7 linked regions of the Homo sapiens genome follow. The protein of the gene in region 1 purifies or fractionates together with the protein of each later gene. This does not show direct contact. Each region holds a gene or a part of one and is shown in the gene's direction. Other genes may lie near its edges. The genes, in order: PLPBP, DNAJB4, MOB2, PEX7, ASRGL1, PAPOLA and SATB1.

The links.
Region 2: the proteins of PLPBP (region 1) and DNAJB4 fractionate together in Homo sapiens (co-fractionation; one large-scale study listed by BioGRID). This does not show direct contact.
Region 3: the proteins of PLPBP (region 1) and MOB2 purify together in Homo sapiens (affinity purification with mass spectrometry, with the first as the bait; one large-scale study listed by BioGRID). This does not show direct contact.
Region 4: the proteins of PLPBP (region 1) and PEX7 purify together in Homo sapiens (co-immunoprecipitation; one large-scale study listed by IntAct). This does not show direct contact.
Region 5: the proteins of PLPBP (region 1) and ASRGL1 fractionate together in Homo sapiens (co-fractionation; one large-scale study listed by BioGRID). This does not show direct contact.
Region 6: the proteins of PLPBP (region 1) and PAPOLA fractionate together in Homo sapiens (co-fractionation; one large-scale study listed by BioGRID). This does not show direct contact.
Region 7: the proteins of PLPBP (region 1) and SATB1 purify together in Homo sapiens (affinity purification with mass spectrometry; one large-scale study listed by BioGRID and IntAct). This does not show direct contact.

The regions. Positions count from the first base shown.
Region 1 is NC_000008.11:37,772,645-37,776,144, forward strand, and holds part of PLPBP (pyridoxal phosphate homeostasis protein), read left to right. Parts: intron 1-110; coding exon 111-245; intron 246-2,664; coding exon of another isoform or gene 2,665-2,694; coding exon 2,695-2,837; intron 2,838-3,273; coding exon 3,274-3,372; intron 3,373-3,500. UniProt on the Homo sapiens protein: Pyridoxal 5'-phosphate (PLP)-binding protein, which may be involved in intracellular homeostatic regulation of pyridoxal 5'-phosphate (PLP), the active form of vitamin B6.
Region 2 is NC_000001.11:78,011,439-78,014,938, forward strand, and holds part of DNAJB4 (dnaJ homolog subfamily B member 4), read left to right. Parts: intron 1-1,612; coding exon 1,613-2,181; intron 2,182-3,500. UniProt on the Homo sapiens protein: Probable chaperone. Stimulates ATP hydrolysis and the folding of unfolded proteins mediated by HSPA1A/B (in vitro).
Region 3 is NC_000011.10:1,473,280-1,476,779, reverse strand, and holds part of MOB2 (MOB kinase activator 2), read left to right. Parts: intron 1-3,500. UniProt on the Homo sapiens protein: Stimulates the autophosphorylation and kinase activity of STK38 and STK38L.
Region 4 is NC_000006.12:136,871,092-136,874,591, forward strand, and holds part of PEX7 (peroxisomal biogenesis factor 7), read left to right. Parts: intron 1-1,106; coding exon 1,107-1,162; intron 1,163-3,500. UniProt on the Homo sapiens protein: Receptor required for the peroxisomal import of proteins containing a C-terminal PTS2-type peroxisomal targeting signal. Specifically binds to cargo proteins containing a PTS2 peroxisomal targeting signal in the cytosol.
Region 5 is NC_000011.10:62,343,948-62,347,447, forward strand, and holds part of ASRGL1 (isoaspartyl peptidase/L-asparaginase), read left to right. Parts: intron 1-3,500. UniProt on the Homo sapiens protein: Has both L-asparaginase and beta-aspartyl peptidase activity. May be involved in the production of L-aspartate, which can act as an excitatory neurotransmitter in some brain regions. Is highly active with L-Asp beta-methyl ester.
Region 6 is NC_000014.9:96,554,382-96,557,881, forward strand, and holds part of PAPOLA (poly(A) polymerase alpha), read left to right. Parts: intron 1-1,465; coding exon 1,466-1,566; intron 1,567-1,793; coding exon 1,794-2,032; intron 2,033-3,500. UniProt on the Homo sapiens protein: Polymerase that creates the 3'-poly(A) tail of mRNA's. Also required for the endoribonucleolytic cleavage reaction at some polyadenylation sites.
Region 7 is NC_000003.12:18,418,840-18,422,339, reverse strand, and holds part of SATB1 (DNA-binding protein SATB1), read left to right. Parts: intron 1-1,348; 5' UTR 1,349-1,372; coding exon 1,373-1,583; intron 1,584-3,500. UniProt on the Homo sapiens protein: Crucial silencing factor contributing to the initiation of X inactivation mediated by Xist RNA that occurs during embryogenesis and in lymphoma.

The DNA.
Region 1 (3,500 bases):
TTTTTCTTTTCCTGGCATATTTTTTCCTCTAACAAGTCAGAGATTTGTTGCATGTTACTTGCTGCAATAGAGCAAATAAGGAATACTACTTTGCCTCTGTCTCATTACAGCTGTCCCCAATCTCTTCATGCTGGAAACAGTGGATTCTGTGAAGTTGGCAGACAAAGTGAACAGTTCCTGGCAGAGAAAAGGTTCTCCTGAAAGGTTAAAGGTTATGGTCCAGATTAACACCAGCGGAGAAGAGAGTAAGTAACCAGACCTGAATTGTAGATTTTTCTTCCTTTAGGATGGTTGAAGCTTAGGGAGAATGGGTGGGCCCAAGTGTCTGATGGATAAGGTTATAGAAACAAATCACAGGATCACAGGCCTCTAAGTTGGCTGTTTTATGTGTGATCTAGGTAGCATAATGGCATGCAAAGCAGTCTATGTATCATTCTTTACTACATCATGGTTCATTATATCTTAATTTTAGGGGAAGAAGAATGGATGGGGAGTTCAAGAAGGGGATTGTGACTTCGTTTTGTATTTTTGTTTTTTTTTTGAGATGGAGTCTTGCTATGTCGCCCAGGCTGGAGTGCAATGGTGCGATCTCGGCTCACTGCAACCTCCGCCTCCCGGGTTGAAGCAATTCTCCCACCTCAGCCTCCCAAGTAGCTGGGACTACAGGCGTGCACCACCACGCCTGGCTAATTTTTGTATTTGTAATAGCGATGGGGTTTCACCATATTGGCCAGACTGCTCTCGAGCTCATGACCTCTCAAGTGATCCACCCATCTCGGCCTCCCAAAGTGCTGGGATTACAGGCGTGAGCCACCACACTCAGCCTTTTTTTTTTTTTTTTTTGAGACAGAGCCTCACTCTGTCGCCAGGCTGGAGTGCAGTGGCACGATCTCAGCTCACTGCAACCTCCGCCTCCTGGGTTGAAGCGATTCTCCTGCCTCAGCCTCCCGAGTAGCTGGGATTACAGGCACGCGCTACCACGCCCAGCTAATATTTGTATTTTTAGTAGAGACGGAGTTTCGCCATATTGGTCAGGCTGGTCTTGAACTCTTGACCTCAGGTGATCCACCCACCTCAGCCTCCCAAAGTGCTGAGATTAAAGACATGAGCCACTGCACCCGGCCTGGGATTGTGTCTTTCATCTGGAAACCCCCAAAGGTCACCATCACTCCTACAAGGAGTATTTTAAATTTTTAAGACCTAAGATTATATAAATACTCTTAGATCTTAAAAAAATTACTTGATGTTGCATTGGGAGAGAATGGAAGATAATTACTGTGAGTGGGCCAGGTGCGGTGGCTTACACCTGTAATCCCAGCACTTGGGAAGGCTGAGGCAGGTGGATCACCTGAGGTCAGAAATTCGATACCAGCCTAGCCAACATGATGAAACTTCATCTCTACCATACATACAAAAATTAGCCAGGCATGATGGTGTGCACCCATAGCCCCAGCTGCTCGGGATGCTGAGGCAGGAGGATCCCTCGAACCCAGGAGGTGAATATTGCAGTGATCCGAGATCGCGCCACTGCACTCCAGCCTGGGCGACAGAGTTAGACTCCATCTCAAAAAAAAATAAATAAATAAAAAATTATGGTGAGCACCAGTCAATGAATATCTTTATGGGGCTTGGATTAACAGTGTAACATAGTGTGAATAGAAGCATGGGCTTTGAAATCAGACAGACCTTGGGTTTCAGCTACACTACTTTCCAGTATTGTAACCTTGGATAAGTTACCTAATCTCTCTGTACTTCAGTTTCCTTTTTTGGCAATGGTATCATGAGAATGCTTACTTCAGAGGGTGTGGTTAGGACTGAATATGATAATCCAGGCAACATTGTTAGCACAGAACCCTACACATGTTGTTAGCTATTCGTTAAGAATAAATGTATACAGATCAGGCATTTGATTGCAACCATCAAAGCACCAGTATTCACCAAATCTTAGTATGCAGGAACACAGTAGAGGCATCTGTTTTCTAGATAACGTCCTAGAGTCAGACTACCTGGGTTTAAATCCCAATTATCAATAGAAATCTGAAATCAACTATAGGTCAAGTCTTTATTGTATCATTTCTTGATAATTAGCTATAATATGCCCTATTTAAAGACTGAAGTAAATGTTACTAGTATCTCCGCCTAATAAATGGGGGCAAGACAATATCAATAGCTCTTATAACTGTATAACAAATAATTGCTTGCTGCAGATTTCTCTTCCAGTTGTTAATTAGAAAGTTCAGTTAAACTTTGCTAATATATAGCCAAAAATATTTAACATGTACTTTATACTAAATTTTTTGCAACTCCATTAAATTAATAAAACTATAAAAATTCTTGATTTAGAAAAGTAATTCTCAGGTTCATCTGGCATTTTGGCAATGCAAATCTTCCTGGTATCCCAAAAAAGCAAGATTTTTTCTTTTCCATGTCTCCTAGCTGTTTTCAGCTGAAATCCTGAGATGGAGGAAAGAGAATCCAACTGATAGTTCTTTTCTTGAGAAATTTAGAACCTGACCAGAAGCAGAGCAACATAGAAAACCCCAAGTATAAAGTTACTCTTTAGGACTTGAGGCTCTTTCAAGAGGTTCTCTTGTTGGGGGTCACCTCTTCTGTCGTAAGGAAGGGAGGAAAATGGAGCCTTCCTCTGGCCATTTACCCTTGCAGTATACCTGTTTTCTGTTTCTTTTCTTGAAGGTAAACATGGCCTTCCACCTTCAGAGACCATAGCCATCGTGGAGCACATAAACGCCAAGTGTCCTAACCTGGAGTTTGTGGGGCTGATGACCATAGGAAGCTTTGGGCATGATCTTAGTCAAGGACCAAATCCAGACTTCCAGGTACTGGGGGGTCGGGGAGATTGCTCGTGTGCTAAAGAAGCAGGGTGCTGGAGTGCTATTGCAGGGCTGGCTGCAGTGGGGATTGCAGAGTCATCCCAGACACTGCCTGTTGAGTGTTCTAGCCCTCTTTTGAACTCTTCTCAGAAGGAAAAGGGAAGAACAGGTTTCCAAAGCCCCACAAACCTTTTTCAACTCAACTTGAACTTGGCTAAAACATAGTCTTTAGAGAATATGAGATTTCTTCCTCTCCAGTGACTAATAGTTTTCTCGAAAGTGGGATAGTTTGCAAAAAACCCTTTCAGTAACGTCTGGCAATTTTGGCAGGCCTTGAAATCATAAGGAATACATAACCGTTGTCAGAGAAGTTCAGATTCAGACACTTTTGGGCATCGTTAGAGAAGGCAGGAGTAAAATAGGTGTCATCTCTTTCTGTCAGCTGTTATTGTCCCTCCGGGAGGAGCTGTGTAAAAAGCTGAACATCCCTGCTGACCAGGTTGAGCTGAGCATGGGCATGTCCGCGGATTTCCAGCATGCGGTGAGTGTCCTGCCAGTGCCCTGTCTGCCTCGAGGGGTGGGGGTAGGGGGTCTGAGAGGCTGACACAAGAGCAGATCTTTGCTGTAGAAGCCTTGGAAATGCCTTGGGATGGCAGTAAGGTACCCAGT
Region 2 (3,500 bases), on another chromosome or scaffold:
TTATTAGAATTTTTTTCACTCTCTGACACAGAGTTCTATTTTAATTCTTTTTTTTTTTTTTTTGAGATGGAGTTTTGCTCCTGTTGCCCAGGCCGGAGTGCAATGGTGCAGTCTTGGCTCACTGTAACCTCTGCCTCCCAGGTTCAAGCGATTCTCCTGCCTCAGCCTCCCAAGTAGCTGGGATTATAGGCATGTGCCACCATGCCCAGCTAATTTTGTATTTATAGTAGAGACGGGGTTTCACCATGTAGACCAGGCTGGTCTCGAACTCCTGATCTCAAGTGATCCACCCGACTCGGCCTCCCAAAGTGCTGGGATTACAGGTGTGAGCCACTGCACCTGGCCCTATTTTAATTCCTAAACAGTAAAAGATGATCTGAAATAAAACTAGTTAGAATGAATATGGTATTTTTATTACATTATATTTTTACATATTTCTATTTTATTTATATATAAACAGTATGAATATGGTATTTTATATTTTGCTATATATTTTATTAATATATTTATATTTTTAAATGTTATATATATTGTTTGATTGTAATAAAAATTAAAGATTTAAGTTCTGCACTTTGTGTTGATTGCTGAAGACCTTCCAACTGACATCTTTTAAAAACTTATATATTTATAAGTAGATACTTATATAATTTATATACTTCAGCATGCCAGATCAGTAGTTTATAAGGAGTTCCCAGTTTTATTTTCTTTTTCTTTTCTTTTCTTTTTTTTTTTTTTTTTTTTTGAGACAGAGTCTCACACTGTTGCCCGGGCTGGTGTGCAGTGGTGCGATCTCAGCTCGCTGCAACTTCTGCCTCCCAGGTTCAAGTGATTCTCCTGCCTCAGCCTCCTGAGTAGCTAGTATTACAGGCACCTGCCACCACACCTGGCTAATTTTTTGTATTTTTAGTGGAGGCGGGGTTTCACTGTGTTGGCCAGGCTGGTCTCAAACTCCTGACCTCATGATCTGCTTGCCTCGGCCTCCCAAAGTGTTGGGATTACAGGCATGAGCCTCTGCGCCCGGCCTTATTTTATTTTTCTTACTTACCCGTGGAACAAAGAATCAGGAATAAATATTAGAGATGCTGATTTGGCCGGAAGCAGTGGCTCACACTTGTAATTTCAGCACTTTGGGAGGCCAAGGCAGGCAGATCACCTGAGGTTGGGAGTTCGAGACCAGCCTGACCAACATGAAGAAACCTCGTCTCTACTAAAAATACAAAATTAGCCGGGCGTGGTGGCACATGCCTGTAATCCCAGCTACTCGGGAGGCTGAGGCAGGAGAATTGTTTGAACCTGGGAGGCGGAGGTTGCGGTGAGCCAAGATTGCGCCATTGCACTCCAGCCTGGGCAAACAAGAGCGAAACTCTGTCTCAAAAACACAAACAAACAAAAATGCTGATTTGGAGGAAGAATTTGAAAACTTAACAATTTAACTTAGGATGTAATCATCAAGAGTTTTATAGCTGTTCTGTATTTAGTAAAGTGGCATTTCTGGCCAATATTAATACATTTTAATGTAAGTTAGCCAAAATTTATTAGCAATACAGTTTTTGAAAGTTTAACTTTTAAGAGTTGCAAGCTTTTTTCTAATCATGCTTATCTCTTCAATTAGGGTTGAAAGGAGGAGCAGGAGGTACTGATGGACAAGGAGGTACCTTCCGGTACACCTTTCATGGCGATCCTCATGCTACATTTGCTGCATTTTTCGGAGGGTCCAACCCCTTTGAAATTTTCTTTGGAAGACGAATGGGTGGTGGTAGAGATTCTGAAGAAATGGAAATAGATGGTGATCCTTTTAGTGCCTTTGGTTTCAGCATGAATGGATATCCAAGAGACAGGAATTCTGTGGGGCCATCCCGCCTCAAACAAGATCCTCCAGTTATTCATGAACTTAGAGTATCACTTGAAGAGATATATAGTGGTTGTACCAAACGGATGAAGATTTCTCGAAAAAGGCTAAACGCTGATGGAAGGAGTTACAGATCTGAGGACAAAATTCTTACCATTGAGATTAAAAAAGGGTGGAAAGAAGGCACCAAAATTACTTTTCCAAGAGAAGGAGATGAAACACCAAATAGTATTCCAGCAGACATTGTTTTTATCATTAAAGACAAAGATCATCCAAAATTTAAAAGGGATGGATCAAATATAATTTATACTGCTAAAATTAGTTTACGAGAGGTAAGTTGGTAGGACCTAAAATCCTAAGACCAAATAATTATGTAGTTGATCATAGGGAGTGTATCTAGATAATAGCTAACATTTATTTAATGCCTATTATACGTTAAAAATAATTACTATAAAAATCCTCTAAGATAGTACTAGTATTATACCTCTTTTATGGATGTGATTATATTTTCTAACTTTAGTTACTTATAATTAAAGTGTCAAGTGTTAACTGGATTATGTACTATGAGGCTGCTTTTACAAATGTGGTTTATGAGATCTGCATTGGTAATCTCAACACATTAGTCTTTGTATATAGGGTTTGTTCTAAATTTGTTAATATGGAGTAATAATTGCATACCAAAAAAGATTAGAAGAAAATAATTTATAATTCACTACAAATTTGTATACATTTATATTAATAAAAAATACATTTATAAGTGCATATAAATATATACATTTATAAATTATAATGCTACTATGTTAATACAATTATTATTTGAGTTCTTATTTGCACTATTTCTTTTTTTTTTTTGAGACAGAGTCTTGCTCTGTCACCCACAGCGCAATCTCGGCTCACTGCAACCTCTGCCTCCGGGTTCAAGTGATTCTCTTGCCTCGGCCTCCTAAGTAGCTGGGATTACAGGCGCCCCCCACCACACCTGGCTAATTTTTGTATTTTTAGTAGACACAGGGTTTTACCATGTTGGCCAGGCTGGTCTTGAATTCCTGACCTCAGGTGATCCACTTGCCTTGGCCTCCCAAAGTGCTAGGATTACAGGCATGAGCCACCACGCCTGGCCTATTTGTACTATTTCTCAAATTGGATTGTAACTTTGCAAATATGGTCATAGCAGTTCCCTGCTTCAAATTCTTAAATTGCTCTATATAACCTCTACCATAAAGTCCAAACTCTTTAGCTTAAAATAAGTCATTTTAAATCTGATGTCTACCCATAAAATGTATATGCACTTCCCCAAGTTTGCTCTATTATTATTATTATTATTTTTTTGAGATGGAGTCTCGCTCTGTCACCCATGCTGGAGTGCAGTGGCACAATCTCAGCTAGTACTGCAGCCTCCACCTCCCAGGTTCAAGTAATTCTCCTGCCTCAGGTTCCTGAGTAGCTGGGATTACAGGTGCCCGCCACCATGCCCAGCTGATTTTCATATTTTTAGTAGCGATAGGTTTTCACCATGTTGGCCAGGCTCGTCTTGAACTCTTGACCTCAAGTAATCCGCCCACCTCGGCCTCCCAAAGTGCTGGGACTATAGGCATGAGCCACCGCACCTGGCCCAGTTTGCTCTATTATTATCTTGTATACTTGAGCTGTA
Region 3 (3,500 bases), on another chromosome or scaffold:
CAGAATTTGTGAGACATAACTCAAGCAGTGCCTAGAGGGGATTTATAGGATTAATGCTTTCTTAGAAAAAGAAGATGACTTTCAGTAATCTACGTTTCCAACTTAAACTAGAAAAAGAGCAAAATAAGTCAAAATCAAGGACAAGAAAGTAAATAAGAACAGAAAGCACTGAGATTGATTTTTAAAACAATAGGGGAAATGAGTGAAATCAAAATGTGATGACTTTGAAAGGTAATAAATTGGTAAGCCTTTAGTAGGTACAAAGATAAGAGAGAAGATGCAATGATCAATAAAAAGGAGTGAGTGTCACTAAACCCTGTGGATGTAAAGAGGAGTATCACTGTAGACCCAGTGGATGTTAAAAGGATAATAAGGAAGTATTGGAAAAAAACCCTCTGTGCACATGAATTCTATGGCTTGGGTTAAATGGACCAACTCTTTGGAAAGCGCAGTATATCAGAACTCGCCTAAGATAGGCAGTGCCATAAGGTAAGAAGAAAGAATAAAAGGCATCCAAATTGGAAAAGAAATAAAACAATAAGCCCCCCTTATCTACAGTTTCCGTTACCCACAGTCAACTATGGTCTGAAAATAGTTAATGGAAAATTCCCGAAATAAACAGTTAATAAGTTTTCAACTGCATGCTGTTCTGAGCAGTGTGATGCGGTCTCCACCGTCCTGCTCCAGGTGTGCCTCCTCCTCCCTCGGCCCAGCTGTGCCTCGGCCCCCGTGTGGATCCACTGCCGCAGTGCCAGGGTGCTCGTGCTCAGGTTGCTCTTATGTGACATGAGGCGGCCCAAAGCGCAAGAGCGTGATGCTGGCAATTCAGATATGCCAAAGAGAAGACAGAAAGCACTTCCTTGACCTAAAGATGAAAAGGTGAAAGTTCCTGACTAGAAAGAAACAGATTGTGTGTGAGGTTGCTAAGATCTAAGGTAAGAACAAATCTCTTCTTTATGAAATTGTGAAAAAGGGAAAAAAAGTCCCTTTAATTTCGCTGTTACATCTGAAATTGCAAAAGTGACAGCCACAGTGCGTGTTGAGTACTTGGATCTGTGGGTGGAGGAGGTGAGAGGATGGGAGCAGCAGCGTGTTGCCATTGAGCCTGCAGGAGGCCAGCAAGGGACCCCCTGATATGCGACCCCAGCCACTCACTGCAACTGATTGTCCTCAGTTTATGAATTACACTGGGTGTGGTGGCTCACACCTGTAATCCTGGCTACTCAGGAGGCTGAGGCGGTGGATCACTTCAGGAGTTCGAGACTAACTTAGCAACACAGCGAGACCCTATCTCAGTCAATCAATCAAGTCTGCCTGTCTTTATTTTAGTAATGTATGTATAGGAGAAAGCGCAGCATATATAGGGTTTGGTGCTCTCTGTGGCTTCAGGCATCCCCTGGGGGTCTTGCAGTGCATCCCCTGTGGATGGGGGGGATTGCTGTATCCCTGTGCACACGTGTGATTGGGAAAACCTCAAGGATTGTAGCAAATAATAATATAAATTTAGTGAGGTCAACACGCACAAATCAGTCATAGGTCTGTATATTAGCAATGTGAAATTTAAAACTGAAATTAATATTTAACATGCCATTTATAATAGCTCCAAAAATAATGCGATCCTTAGTTATAAACTTAACAAGACATTCCCAGGATCTGCACCCTGGAAACTACGAAATGCTGTTACAGAAAATCGAAGGTCTACATAAATGGAGAGACGCACTGCGTTTATCACCTGGAAGATGACTCCAAACACAAATTCTCCCCCAAACTGATCTGTTGATTTAGTGCAGTCTCAATCCAAATCCCAGCAGAGTTCAAGTATAGACCAGTTAGTTCTAAAATTTATATGGAGGGACAAATTAACTGAAATAGCTACAATGATTTTGAAAAAATAAGAGGAATCTCACACTTTTGAGACTTACTGTGAAACTCTAGTAATTAAGACAGTGTGCAGTGTTGAAGGAATGGATACAGAGCTCCATGGAACACAGTAGAGTCCAGAGATAGCCCCACACAAACGTGTGGACGGAGAGTCCGGAGACAGCCCCACACAAACGTGTGGATGGAGAGTCCGGAGATAGACCCACACAAACGTGTGGATGGAGAGTCCGGAGACAGCCCCACACAAACGTGTGGATGGAGAGTCCGGAGATAGACCCACACAAACGGGGCCATCAGAGTTTTGACAAAGAGCAAAATAAATTCAAGGGAGAAAGGGTAGTCTGTTCAAAAATGCTGCTGGGAAAAGCAGTCATTTGTGTCAAAAACCAAACGCTGACCTATCCCTCATGCCTCGTGCAAACATCTAAAACTCCAAAGCTTTTGGAAGAAACCATAGGAAATCCTTATGACCTGACACTAGGCAGCAAAATTCAGAACTTTTGCTTCAAGACACTTTTAAGAGAAAGAAGACAAACTCCAGGCTGGGAGAGAAAACATTTGCAAATCACACATCCCACAAAGGACTGATATCCAGAATACATAAAGAACATACACAACTCAGCAGTAAGAAAACAAAACAGTCCAGTTAACTGTCAGCAAAAGAAATGAGCAGACAGTTTGCCAAAGAGGGTGTAAGGATGGCAGCTGGGGCTATCCTGTGTTGTTAGCAATTAGAGAAAGGCAAGCCGAAACCATGGGCAGACCCATGTCCACCTGCCCACATGCCGGTCGGGACACTGGTGCTGGCCAGGATGTGGCCACCTGGGACTCTGTTCTGCTGGCAGGGACACAGGTGAATAGATGAGCACGCCATGTCCATCTCTGCAGGGGCAGTGTCTGGGCAGTGAGGAGCCGTGGACTTCCGACACGTCTGCCACGTGACTGCATCCCAGGGGCCTCCGTGCAAGAGGGGCCCAGATCGGGAGGATCCGCGCGGTGCGATTCCTTCCCGCGGCCCATCCCTGAGGAGCCATCCCCGGGGTGCTGGGGGCACAGCAGCACGGGTGTGAGGGGCCACGTAAGCCGCCGCGTGTCCTGATTGTGGTTATGAATGCGTGAGTCCACATGTGGATAAAAATCTTAGAACTATATACCAGAAACGGTTTACTGATAATTGAAGAAGTACAGGAAACAGTGGTGTTCCATCTTTCAGAACAGATGGGACAATCCACAGTGTCCCTGAGTTACTGCTTTCTCTGGGTTTGCATTGTGGAAAAGGGTTTCCGTCTCTAACCTCCACTGTTTTGAGACCTGTCGCACACCTGTGGCCAGGTGCATCAGATGTCAGCTTGCAGTGTCAGGGTACCTGGAGCCAGTGTCTGACTCCTGCAGAGTGCTGAGCCATCCTGGCTGGGTCCTCGCCCTGGAAACATGGGCCTCAGCCTGGCCCTTAGGGGCTGGGCCTCCCCTACACCATCTGGGAACCCCAGGACAGTGGGGATACGTGCGTCCTCTACATCATTCTCGAGGAGCAGATGCTGAAAGGACTGTTGTCTCTGCATTCTCAGAGGGTCTGACAGCCTGGTGGCGATGCCCACGGTGAGGCCTGCAGCCTGGGA
Region 4 (3,500 bases), on another chromosome or scaffold:
ATTTGTTTAATTGGACAAGTTTTAGCAGTTGAAAAATATGCTCTATGTATATTTTAGAGTGATTATGAGAATGAAATAAGGTAATGTAGTGAAAGTACTTTGCAAACTAAGTGCTGGTCAAATGTAGTTATATATGTGTATTTAACTATTAAAGTGCGATAAGACAAACACTGAAGAAATGTAATTGCAAAGGTCAACTTATTAAGTACATTATTACTCATCTAGAAGACGTTACTTGTCTTTAAACTTGCTTTTTACCCTTGATATAATTTTCCATTAGCTGTAATATACAAATAACGTAAAAATAACTTAAGGGTGTTTTTATTTAACATTTAAATGTTTATTTTGATAACGTGATTATAGCAATCATATATTTGTAAAATTGGTAAATTATATAATTATATATTTGTACTCTTATATACTTAAATCCCTTATATTTGTAAGAATCATTTTTGTTTATTACTTTGTTTGCTTTTGCTTTTTTTGAGCCAGAGTCTCTCTCTGTCGCCGGGGCTGGAGTGCAGTGGCATGATCTCGGCTCACTGCAACCTCCACCTTCTGGGTTAAAGCAATTCACCTGCTTCAGCTTCCCCAGAAGCTGAGATTATAGGCATATGTGCCACCATGCCCATCTAACTTTTGTATTTTTAGTACAGGCGGGGTTTCACCATGTTGGCCAGGCTGGTCTCGAGCTCCTGACCTGAGGTGATCTGCCCTCCTGAGCCTCCCAAGGTGCTGGGATTACAGGTGTGAGCTGCTGCATCTGGCCTGTAAGAATCATTTTTGGATAGCCAATATGAAATTGTATTTAATTTTTCCAGAATAGCAACATTTTGGGAATATTTTATTCTAAATAAGTTCTAAAAAGCTTGAGGGATAATTTTCTTTGGAGAATGTAAAAATATTTTTCCTGAAGATGGATACTTATAAGGCCAGAAGATTTTTGCCTCAAATTATAGCATATATGCTTTGAAAAAGCATAATTTTAAGTGACAGCTCTGACTCAACTTAAATTTATTATAATGTTTATGGAATGATCATAGAAAGCAGTGTTATAATCACAGCTGACTTCAAAAAGGGTTTTTTTTTTCTTTTTTTTTTTGTAGTTTTCACCATTTCATGCTTCTGTGCTGGCCTCTTGCTCGTATGATTTTACTGTAAGGTACAGTGGTTTTTAATACATTTCATTGTGAAATACCAGGTAACATTTGCATCTTTGCAACTTTTATAAGAGATAATATGATTACTCTTACTAACATGAAAATAATCTGAGATGGGTACATTTAAATATTTACTAGGATTAATATTATATTTTTCCTGTTTTCGTGATCCAGTCACATATATGAGTAAATTTTTTCTCTTCAAATATTAGCCTGGCTATTCTGTTTAAAAGCCATCTTTTCTAATAGATGTTCCTATGGTAACACTTTCCTACACTATAGATGGCATAGCCAATATATTCTAAATTTAGATATAGAAATTTGGAAATTGCATTTCTTCAGGTCTAATTATATGAGTCGTAAGGCTAAGATTGCTTAGATGAAAAAACAATGAACATGAGTGTATGATTTTTTGTGAATGTAGATATATGAACATGTATGTGTATATATGTGCATGGATATCTAGATAAGAGTGTGTGTGGGTGTGGGTCTCTATTTATACTTCCAGTTACAGTTCCATACCACAGAGGATTTATTTTCCCTTTCCAAATTTGTAACTCTTGACTTCCATTTTATTCACAATATATTTTCTTATGTGTTAAACCCTGTAATGCTTAGAAAGTAGTTCAGAATTGCAAAGCCATACCTTTGAAAAAAACAATCTTACTAATTAGAGCTCAGCACTTGCTTAGAGTTTTTTTTGTCTTTAGTTTGAATACTATATTCAGAAGTTACTTAGGTTAATTCTCCTCTTCTCTGTTAGAGTGTGGTTATGTTATTCACTTGAAACATGGTTTGATTCCTTTGTTTCTGTTTGTATTCAATTTTAGGGTTTTCCTCCCATCCTTGTTGATTTTGTCTAGGCAAAACATTGACATGGTTTCAAAAGTCAAGATGTACATAAAGATATATTCAGAAAGGTTTCCAGGATTTTCACTAAAATATATCCTGGAAATCATTCTGTATCAAAGAGATCATTCTCATTCTGCATAATACACCATTGTGTGGATGTGCTATAGTTTATTTGGCTACCCTCCTATCTATGGACATTTAGCTTGTTTTCAATGTTTTGTAAATAAACAGTGCCACAGTGAATGATAGCTTTGTGTTACTAGAGAATTAATGTCTGGTATTCCTAGAAGTGGGATTGCTGAGTTAAAAGGTAAACATATGTAGTTTTGTTAGATATTACCAAATTCCCATCCATAAGGAATATGCCAATTTTGATACTCAGTAGCAATGTTTGAGAGTACCTGTTTCTCTGCCTTCTAAAGATCATTGATTCATTAAGGTTTTCCAGATGTATGATCTTATCACCTGCAAATAAAGGTGGTTCTACACCTTCATTTCCAATTCTGATGCCTCTAATTGATTTTTCTTAAAATTCCCTCCACAAATACCACTAATACAGTGCTAAATAGTTTATAGAGAATGTCTGATTCCTGATATGAGTACAAACGCCTTTAGTGTTTCTCTATTAAAAATAAGATTCTGACTTTAATGCAAATTATATATGTTTACTTGTTTGTCATACTAAGAAAGTATGCATGAATTCCTATTTTCTTGAGTTTTTTTAATTAGGAATGGGTCTTAAGTTTTGTTGAAGGCTTTTTTTCCCAGCATTTATGGAGATAATCATGATTTTTCTTCTTAGAGATATGGCTATGATGTATTATATTAATGGATTGAACCAACCTTGCATTCCTGGAGTAAGTCTCTCACGTTCTTTGTGTATCATTTTCTCACCATGGTGTTGAATTGTGTTTGCTAATATTTTATTTAAAGCTTTTGCGTCAATATTCAAAGGTGATATTAGTTGCAGTTTTCTTTCTTTTCTCGTTTTGTTTAATGTGTCTGTGTTTTACTTGCTTCATAAAAAGAATTAAGAAATTTTCCTTTGTTTCCAAAGCTCTGGAACAACTTGTACAGCATTGAGGCTATTTGGTCTTTGAATCCTTTGTAGGATTGCTCTGCAAAACTAGTGGAGCATGGTGCTTTTTGTGGAGTACTTTCTTGATAACTTCATTTCTTTCATGGAAGTGAGTCTGTTTAAACTTTGTATCTCTAACGGGATCAAGTTTGGAAATTGTCCCTTGCTTTTAGGTTTTCAAATTTATTCGTAGAGGTGTCTGTAAAGTGGGTGGACACAGTGGCTCATGCCTGTATTCCCAGCACTTTGGGAGGCCAAGGTGGGCAGATCACCTGAGGTTAAGGGTTCAAGACCAGCCTGGCCAACATGGTGAAACCCTGTCTCTACTAAAAATAGAAAAATTAGCCACGCATGATGGCAGGTGCCTGTAATCCCAGCTACTTGGGAGGCTGAGGTGGAATTGCTTGAAC
Region 5 (3,500 bases), on another chromosome or scaffold:
GATGGAGTCTCACTCTTGCTGCCCAGGCTGGAGAGAAATGGCGCGATCTCAGCTCACCGCAACCTCCACCTCCTGAGTAGCTAGGATTACAGGGCATGTGACCCCACACCCAGCTAATTTTTGTATTTTTAGTAGACATGGGGTTTCATCATGTTGGCCAGGCTGATCTTGAACTCCTGACCTCGTGATCCACACACCTCAGCCTCCTAAAGGGCTGGGATTACAGGTGTGAGCCACTGCGCTTGGCCTGTCGTTCATATTTCTTCAGTGAAGTATCAAAGTCTTGCTGATTTTTTTGTTGGTGTTGTTTCTTACTATTGAGTTTTAAGAGTTGTTTATATATTCTAGATATAGCTTTTATCAGATGTGTCAATGCAGAAAAATCAGCAGATATTTTCTTTCAGTCTGTGGTTTGTCTTTTCTTTCTCAATATTTTATTGCAAAAAGCAGAAGTTCTCAACTTTGCAGAAGTCCAGTTTATCAGTTTTTTTTTAAACCAGTCATGCTTTTTGTGTTGTATCTTAATATTTGCCTAACCCAGCATTGCAAACATTTTTCTTGTGTTGTCTTCTAGAAGTTTTAGGTCTGTGATTCACTTTGAATAAATTTTTGTATACGATGCAAGGTATATATCAAGATTCCATTTTTGGTTTTTTTTTTTTGTGGCTACATAGTAGGTGTATTTACTTATGGGAGTACGTGAGATATTGTGATACAGACATGCAATGCATAATAATCAGGGTAAATGGGATATTCATCCCTTCAAGCATTTATCCTTTGTGTTATAAACAATTATATTCTTTTAGTTATTTTAAGATGTATAGCTAAATTATCGACTATAGTCACTGTTGTGCTATCAAATACTAACTCATATTCATTCTATTTTTTGTACCCATTACTTATCCCCACTTCTGCCCCACCCCCACTATCTCCCAGCCTCTGCTAACCATCTTTTTACTCTCTATCTTCATGAGTTCAATTGCTTTGACTTCTAGCTCCCACAAATAAGTGAGAACATGTGAAGGTTTTCTTTTTGTGCCTGACTTATTTCACTTACCATAATGACCTCCAGTTCCATCCATGTTGTTGCAAATGACAGAATCTCATTCTTTTTTATGGCTGAGTAGTACTCCATTGTGTATATGTATCATTTCTTTATTCATCTGTTGATGAACATCTAGGTAGCTTCCGAATCTTGGCTATTGTGAACAATGCTGCAGCAAGCAAGGAGTGCAAATAACTCCTCCATATACTGATTTCCTTTCTCTTGGGTGTGTAGCCGGCAGTGGGATTGCTGTATCACATGGTAGCTGTATTCTTAGATTTTTGAGGAACTCAGGGTTGTTTTTTGTTTTTTGCTTTTTTTCCTGGAGTGCAGTGGCGTGATCTTGGCTCACTGCAACCTCCACCTCCCGAGTACAAGTAATTCTCCTGCCTCAGCCTCCCGAGTAGCTGGGATTACAGGCGCCCACCACCATGCCTGGCTAATTTTTGTATTTTTAGGGGAGACAAGGTTTCACCATGTTGGCCAGACTGGCCTTGAACTCCTGACCTCAAGTGATCCACCAGCCTCAGCCTCCCAAAGTACTGGGATAACAGACGTGAGCCACCACCCGTGGCCCAGCACCAATTGTTGAAAAGGCATATTGCAAGTCCCCTGGTTATGCACACTTCTGTCCAATGTGGCTACAAATCAAGGGTTACCATGACCCCCTCCTCAGGCTTGATAATTTACTATGATGGCTCATAGAACTCTGGAAAACATTTATGTTTACCAATTTATTATAAAGAATATGATAAAGCCGTGGTCCCCAACCTTTTTGGCACCAGGGACCAGTTTCATGGAAGACAGTGTTTCCACAGAGACTCTCGCAGGCACAGTTCACAACAGGGTTCACACTCCTATGAGAATCTAATGCTGCTGCTGATCTGACAGGAGGCGGAGCTCAGGTAGTAATGCTCATGCGCCTGCCACTCACCTCCTGCTGTGGGGCCCAGTTCCTAACAGGCCACAGACCAGTACCAGTACCTGGGGGTTGGGGACTCCTATGATAAAGGATACAGATGAAGAGTTGCATAGGGTGAGGTCAGTTCAGTTCTGACGCTGCCTCTCTGGGGTCAGAGTCCAATCCCACAGGTTCAGGGCTCAGTCCCGTAAGACTGCTTCCCACTTCAGATGCCAATCTTGAGTAGTAGCTTGTCACTTCTACTTCCGACCAACCAGCTATAAATTGGGGTTCCCATGACTCCCTCCTCGAATTCAGTTAATTTGCTAGGGTAGCTCACAGAACTCAGAGAAATATATTTACCAGTTTATTATATGAATAATGGATATAATGGAGGATACAGACAGGGAGATGAAGAGATGCATAGGGCAAGGTATGGGGGAAGGGGTGTGGACCTTCCCTGCCCTCTTCAGCACACCACCCTCCTGGCACCTTCACATACCTAGCAATCCAAAAGCTCTCCCATCATCAGCCCTTACAGGTTTTTATGGAGGCTTCTGTGAGACTGAGTAACAAACGTAAGAAGCCATGTTTGCTAATTTCTTCATGCCAACATCATTTCATGAAGCCCCTGATTCTGTGACGATGTGCAGATGTGCCGCTTTCTGGAAGAATGATTTGAAGACAAAATTGGATAGAGCACACAGCCCCCATGTCTCTTGCCCGAGTCACTGTATGTCTTAAACGATAAATGATCCTAGTCTTGCCTTTTCCTACACTTAAGATAACATCTGGGTCAGGCGCAGTGACTCACACCTGTAATCCCAGCACTTTGGGAGGCCGAGGCAGGCAGATCACCTGAGGTCAGGAGTTCGAGACCTGCCTGAGCAACATGGTGAAACCCCATCTCTACTAAAACTACAAAAATTAGCCTCGCATGGTGGTGGGTGCCTGTAATCCCAGCTACCTGGGAGCCTGAGGCACGAGAATCACTTGAACCTGAGAGACAGAGGTTGCAGTGAGCTGAGATGGCACCACTGCACTCCAGCCTGGGGCGACAGTGAGACTCCGTCTCAAAAAAAAAAAAAAAGAAAAATAACGTCTGACAAGGTTAGCGATTATGCATACCTCTGTCATCTATAGCCAGATGCACTTTTGCACCCAAACTTTGATGTGATTCTGTTTTAATGTAACTTCTGAGGAAGTCTCATGTAACCTTTGAGCATGTACTAACCCTCCACAACCTGTATATCAGCTCTAAGGGGAGACACAGTTTTGAAGCAGTTTGACAGCACCTCTCTGAAGGACCCCTCTGGACTATAGTCATCAGTCTATAGTCCTCAGTAAGATTTCTAAATAAAACTAATTATTTAAAAGCTCAATTTTTTTTTCTCTAGTTGACATTTCATGGCATAGGCACAATTGATTAAATCGTTGGCCATTGGTTATCAACTAACCCTTCAGTCTCTCTCCCCTTCCTCGGAGATAGAGGGGTGAGACTGAAAGTTCAGGCCCTCTGATTACACGATTGGTTCCCTGGCAACCAGCTCCCCA
Region 6 (3,500 bases), on another chromosome or scaffold:
TCCCCTCTTGATATTGTCCCTGAGTGGTAACACCTGCTCTGTTGACTACATTTACATTCATATACCAATGATATCCATAGCTTTAATAAGTTGACTGCTCCGTGGTTCCCTGTGGATGTCATGTAAGTACCAAAAATAACAAGTCTTCGAAGTGTTGCCTACCTCCTCATGGTGTCATCATTCACCAGTTTCAGAGTGTGGGTGATAGCTCTGAGAGAGAGAGAGAGAAAGAGAGACAGACACACACACACACAGACACAGATAGAGACAGAGAGAGAAACCAGAGGACTTTTCTGCTTTTGTTTTTCTTTTAGGAGGTAATAAAACCGTGAATTTATTTAAATGCTAATGTGTAGGATTTACTTGAGACAGGAAAATTGGATGGGAGAGTAAAGGAGTGTGATGATTTGAGTTTCTTGAGATGACAGGAGTTAGTGAGATTTAGAACATAGATTGGGCTTTTTTATATAATAAGGAATAATTTCTTTGTATAGGAAAGAATAGGGGTTAATTATAGAAATAGGTGTGTCTCTTTAATATTTATACTTAGAATTTGGGGTAATACTTGGCTAGTGGCTTTTGGTTGGTTGTTAAGTAGGAAGGTCATTTGAGATTGGCATGAGAAAGAGAAAATGAGAGAGAAACTTCGGGGGAGTAAAGAGGGTTTAAAATAAGTTATTTTAAAAGTAAGATATTGAAATAATCCCCTTGTCACTTAAAGGTCTTTAACTGGGCCACTGGATGGGCTTTTAGGGTTTTATAAAACTCTTATACTTTGTATACAGAAGTTTATTTCTGTTTTCTGTTTCTCAGAACATTTGCTCATTCATAACTTTTTTTTTTTTTAATAATATAGGTTTTTTTTTTTTTTTCTTGTAGAGACGAGGGCTCACTGTGTTGTCCGGGCTAGTTTCAGACTTGAGCTCAAGCAATCCTTCCACCTCACCTCCCAGAGTGCTAGGGTTACAGGCGTGAGCCACCATGCCTGGCCTCTTATTAATAACTTTTTAAAGGATTTTTGTTCGAAAAAATCCTTCAGTTAAGTCTCTTAGCCAAAATTAGCTAAGAATAGATCTTTTAGAACCACTCTGGCGATATAGTAGCCAGCCGCCATATGTGACAATTTAAATTTAATTAAAATTAAATAGTTTCTCACTAGTCATATTTTAAGTGCAGAGTAGCTATGTTTTAATAGTGGCTACCATGTCCAGTAGCACAGATATAGAACATTCTGTCATCTCAGGAAGTAACATTAGACAGTGCTGCTTTAGAAGGTTTGTGTACTATTTACTGTTGTTATACTTTATCCAATAAAGTCAGTTGCTAAATTGTATGTATAGGAAGTAAAACCAAAGAATCATTTACTTTACAAAATAATTTCTATATATGTTATAGATTATTGTAATTTTTTTTTTATTTTTCTATTTTTAAATTTTGAGACAATTTTTAATTTTTTTTTTTTTAGCAGAAACAGTCCTGCTCCAGCTGTAACAGCAGCATCTGTGACCAACATACAGGCTACTGAAGTTTCTGTGCCACAAGTAAATTCCAGTGAAAGCTCAGGGGGTAAGGAGATTGGGTTTGTCAGGTTTGAGAATTCTTACATTATATTTGGTTTAGCCTTCATTTTGAAAAGTGGGTTTGTTAAGTAGTTGAAATTCAGTTTTTTAAATGCCAGTTTATTTTTTGCATGTAAAGTTATTCATGAAATCAAATTCAGAGAAACAAAAACTTACAACTTGATACTGATTTGGTTATTTTAATTTGTATATACTCATATATTTGCTGCTTAGGTACATCGAGTGAAAGCATTCCTCAAACTGCCACACAACCAGCCATTTCTCCACCACCAAAGCCTACGGTCTCCAGAGTTGTTTCTTCAACACGTCTGGTAAACCCACCACCTAGATCTTCAGGAAATGCAGCAACTTCAGGAAATGCAGCAACAAAAATACCTACTCCTATAGTAGGAGTCAAGAGGACATCCTCACCTCATAAAGAAGAGAGTCCCAAGAAAACCAAAACAGAAGAGGTATATATATGAAAAACATATTAGTTAGCCATGGCAACACCAACTGCCTATTTTTAAATCCAGTGGAAGAAAAGTTTATGAACCAAAATAGAGAAGGATCAAGGAACAAAGCTTTTAGAAAATTTTAGGTGTGTCTGTAGTGCTTTAGTGCTGTAGTTTCTCTTCACCTTTCCCATTCTTCTCAGTAACTACCTCTGCTATAAAGCTATGCCCTCTCATTTAAACTTCTTTAGTGTGTGTAGTTAGCAGGTATTGTCTACAACAGAATTTAACATGAAATTACATGTATTCTTAACTTATTATTCTCTAATGACTACCTTTTATTTGTACTGATTTTTTGATGGTCCTTTGGACAGTTTTTTGCTTCTGTGATCCAAAAGGAGTTTTGGAGTTTCTCTACTGTACTTGGTGTTATAGGACCATCAAATACCAGAGGTTCTCAGGGACTTCTTACTGAATGATAAGTGCATGCAGCCAGATTAGTTTTTGAACCTTAAATGGTTAGCTCTCTAACCCTTAAAGAAACTTTCTAGCATCATTTGCATTTTTGTTTTTTAACTCCTGGGCACAGGCGATCCTTCTGCCTCCCAGGTAGCTAGACCCACAGGTGCATGCCACCATTTCCAGCTTAATTTTTTGTTTTTTGTTTTGAGACAGGGGCTGGCTCTTTTGCCCAGGTTGGAGTGCAGTGGAGCAATCTCAGCTCACTGCAACCTCTGCCTCCCGGGCTCAAGCAATCCTCCCACCTCAGCCTCCCAAGTAGCTGGGACTACAGGTGCGCACCACCATGCCTGCCTAATTTAAAAAAAGATTTTTTTGTAAAGACAGAGTCTTGCTATGTTATCCAGGCTTGTCTCCAGCTCCTGGGCTCAAGCGATCCTCCTGTCTTGGTCTCCCAAAGTGTTGAGGTCACAGGAACCACTATGCTTTGCAAGCTGGTATTAACCTTTTATACTACCTGGTTTATAATTGTTACAGTCTTAGTTTTGGGAAAACCATTAAAACTGTACATTGATTTCGTATGAGTCTTAAAATAGAGGTAGTCTTGTTACACAATTTTATTTCTCCCTCGAGTCACTTTCATGTTGTTTTCCAATCAGTGAGGCATTTGCAATTGCCCCAGAGATGACAGTCTAAAAGCACCAATTTCATTGTGTTTTTTTTTTTTGCTAAGAATGTATTTAGTAATTTACTTACTACAACACAATTTCTTTAGAGTGGAAAAAAAACCCCTCTAGATTTCTCATGGATTCTATTATGTTTTGATTAAGAATGGTGAAAAATTATTTTATTATTTTATTATTTAGCTTATTCTCTGAAGACTTTTTCTTTCTTTTTTTTTTTTTTGGAAATAGCTGCTATTAACTAAAAGTAATCTGATGAATTTTGTCACTCTTAAGATGGTAAATGAGAATGAAAAACGGGTATTGTATAGTACTTTAAATCCCCCAGATTACTTACGATGCCT
Region 7 (3,500 bases), on another chromosome or scaffold:
GGTAAGAAGTAGGCTATGGTTAAACAGAAGAAAAAATATTTACAGAAAAGCCATGCTAATACAAACTGGCTTTCAACAAATCCAGATTTAAATAGCTCCAGTGTAAGAATTTACAACAAAAACAAGCTATATCAAATTACTAGACAGCTAGGAAAAATGGTAATTATTCTCTCTGGTTTTCCTAAATATGATCCCCTTAGTTTCATAAGCTCAATACTTCAAATACCATCAAAGTTCATAAAATAATTCTACTTACCTGTTCTTATCAATTCTAATTAAAACTATACTTTAAAAATGACTTTGATATTGTCTAATCACTTTACTATAAATGATGGGAAAATTGATGTCTAATATATAACTGAAAATAATTATCTGTTAATTTTTTTGAAGTTAATTACAATGTTAATGCCATTGCATGCTGAGGTTATTTCTGAATACTGGATATTTTGTTTTACCAGTATCATCAAGGTTTTTTGTTTGTGTTTTTTTTTTTTTTAATTGAGCTTGGCACTTCAACCTAATGTGCATATCACGAAGTGTATTCAATTTTTTAAAAATATTTATTGTTAACAGCCCTCTATTACTAATGGACACCTAAATACTGACTCTAAAACACATGAGTTTTAATGCATCAGTACGTTGGATATTTGAAAACCCTTCACTTCTTCCTGTTTCTTTAGGGGTAAACTGATCCAATCACATCTTTGGCCCAAAACTTGACTAGGTCTGTCACATAACTCTTGGAACTTTGATAGTAGAAAACTTTTTCTATGCATTAATTTACAAAAGCCAATGGGGAGTTTAAAAAGCAGTTAGATGTTTGTTACCTTCTTTTGAGATGGTTTATGTTTTTTTCATAAGAATTAATATACATACACATATAAAATGTATACATATAAAACATATACATTAGATTTCTAATATTTTGAACTATGATCATCTTTCCATCCTTTATTAAAGTGTTTCTGCTGTATTTTGTAATGTGTTTCTAATTGTTAAAAATTGGGACTACGTAAATGCAATTTGCTGTTTTCTTTTTAGCTATACTTGTAATAATTCTTGTTCTAAAAGTAAGCCCATTTTTCCCCACTTAGTTTTTTTATAGGCCAGTTATCTTTTTATTCATGTGTATTGGTACAGTTTCCACAGATCATTTTGTTAATTTGAATAAGAATGTAATGCTATCATCTAGAAATATAGTAACATCTGTATCATATCTAGATAGGCCATTTTACAAATACATTATATTTGTGGAGAGATATCTAGAGCTAAAACATTTACATAGGACACATATATACACGTAGGTCCCCGCCCAACTATAACGTGTCTTCTTTTTAAATTCTGGCAGGTGATCTTTAGACAGTGACTGAGTATGGATCATTTGAACGAGGCAACTCAGGGGAAAGAACATTCAGAAATGTCTAACAATGTGAGTGATCCGAAGGGTCCACCAGCCAAGATTGCCCGCCTGGAGCAGAACGGGAGCCCGCTAGGAAGAGGAAGGCTTGGGAGTACAGGTGCAAAAATGCAGGGAGTGCCTTTAAAACACTCGGGCCATCTGATGAAAACCAACCTTAGGAAAGGTAAATACCTTCAAGCCAAATCTTGAAAAGCTGAAAGCCCTGTTGTCTACACAAGGCCACACTGTGTGGGGGTGGAGTGGCAGAACATGTTTTGTATACTCTGCCTTTATTCTCCTTATGATCGTACATTAGTTACATTCTGGGTCCTTAGTATCAATCACGTTGGAAAGTATAGCCTCCATGCTTGGGTGGAGCGTTCTACTGTAGACTGGAATCATGGAACATTTTGGGTAATAAGGACTGAATTAAATATAATGGTTTTAGTTTTGGCAGGGTCCATTCAAAAGGTGTTGTAGTCGAGGATTGTAGGCAGCTGTTTCTTCAAACTAACCTGATTAAGAATAAAACACTTAGGTGATTTGAGAGTTACCCTAGCTTCTTCCTAAGATTCTTAGTTGTAGGGCAGTTTCAGAGATCTTGGACATCTTATGTAGAAGTTTGGTAATGTTATTTTTTGTGGCTTATTTTCTTAAGAGCAAATTCATTAGCAGTAAAAAATCTGATGATTCTAGTTTTTTATTTTTGTTTTAATTGGGTATTTTTGATGAAGAAAGAACAGATTTAGGCAAGTTTATAAGGGGAAGATGTGTAACTGTGTGACTTTTTTCTACCAATATTAAATTGATGCAGTTTAACAACTTGGACTGTGTTTAACAGTGTTGTTCCTGTAAAGCAGTGCCTACCCTGGGTGTAATGCATGTGCCTCATAAGGAGCTTCATTTTGTGTCTGAATAACATGTATAGGAATCAGATTTTCCTTACATTTGCTAAGCAATGGATAAAAATGCTATATTTTAGCAACCAAGAATATTAAGTAGATAAAGTTAGAAGGCAGAGGAATTTCATTGTGTTTGATGCGTAACATTTATCATACAATCATTTATTTTTTCCTTGGTTTGGCGAAAACAAAGAATATATTGATCCTGAAATGAACAGACACAGCAGTCCGTATTGTTAGATCTTTATCTATTAAAAATGGGAAAACAGCACTTCAGCAAATTCTTTGGCCTCTACTCATGATTACCCTATTTATTGATTGTTTGCCAAGAATGTATGCATCTTAAGAAAGCCAGGGTAAGAGCATTAAAAATATAATTTATTACGGCTTTTCAAACAGAGTGCATTAATATTGTACTGTGAAGCACTGGGGCTGTATAAAAAAGACTTTCTGACGCCTGCAAACATGTAAGTTCCATAAATTCCTAAATAGGAGATTTCAGCTGTCTCTGGTATTATGTGATATTTGCACAGCAAACTTTAATGCCAGGACAGTTTTAGACAAGGATTCTACAGACTTCACTGCTCCTTATGGCAGACGTGCTGTTTACACAGGCTCATAAACCTTCAGCAAAAGCTTCTAAGACTGCCTTCAGGTTTAAATCATGTGGTATTTTTAGCATTCAGCAGTGACCAGTGCTCTCCCCTTTAAATGCTGGAAGGTTATGAAGTTGCTGTAGTTGGAACTCTCGCCAAACACTAGCACGAATAATCATACAGTTCAGAAAAGGCTTGTGTTCAGCATTACTCCCAGAAACGGGAGGGTAACCGCAACAGTTTGCTAGAAGGTCTGTAATTAGATAGTACTATTGTCACTTTATAGCCGTCTTTATTATTTTAGGGTACCTCTAAACATGATCAATAAAATCCACAATAAATCCAATATATTTCAATAGTTTGAAAACCCTGCAGTTATTTCATAGATCTAAGGAAAAGCATATTGTAGAATACATCTGATTCATCCTACAAAAGGAAAAATGAATGTGTACATTTTTGTTGTACTTACCCAACTCTTTGAAGATATCAGGACAGGAGGAGGAAAACTAAAAGTACAGTAAATTCACTTCCTGCTCAAATGCTTTTTGGTTTTGTTTTGTTTTGTTTTGGATGTATTCTAAAAATGCAGTTTAATTGTAGGAG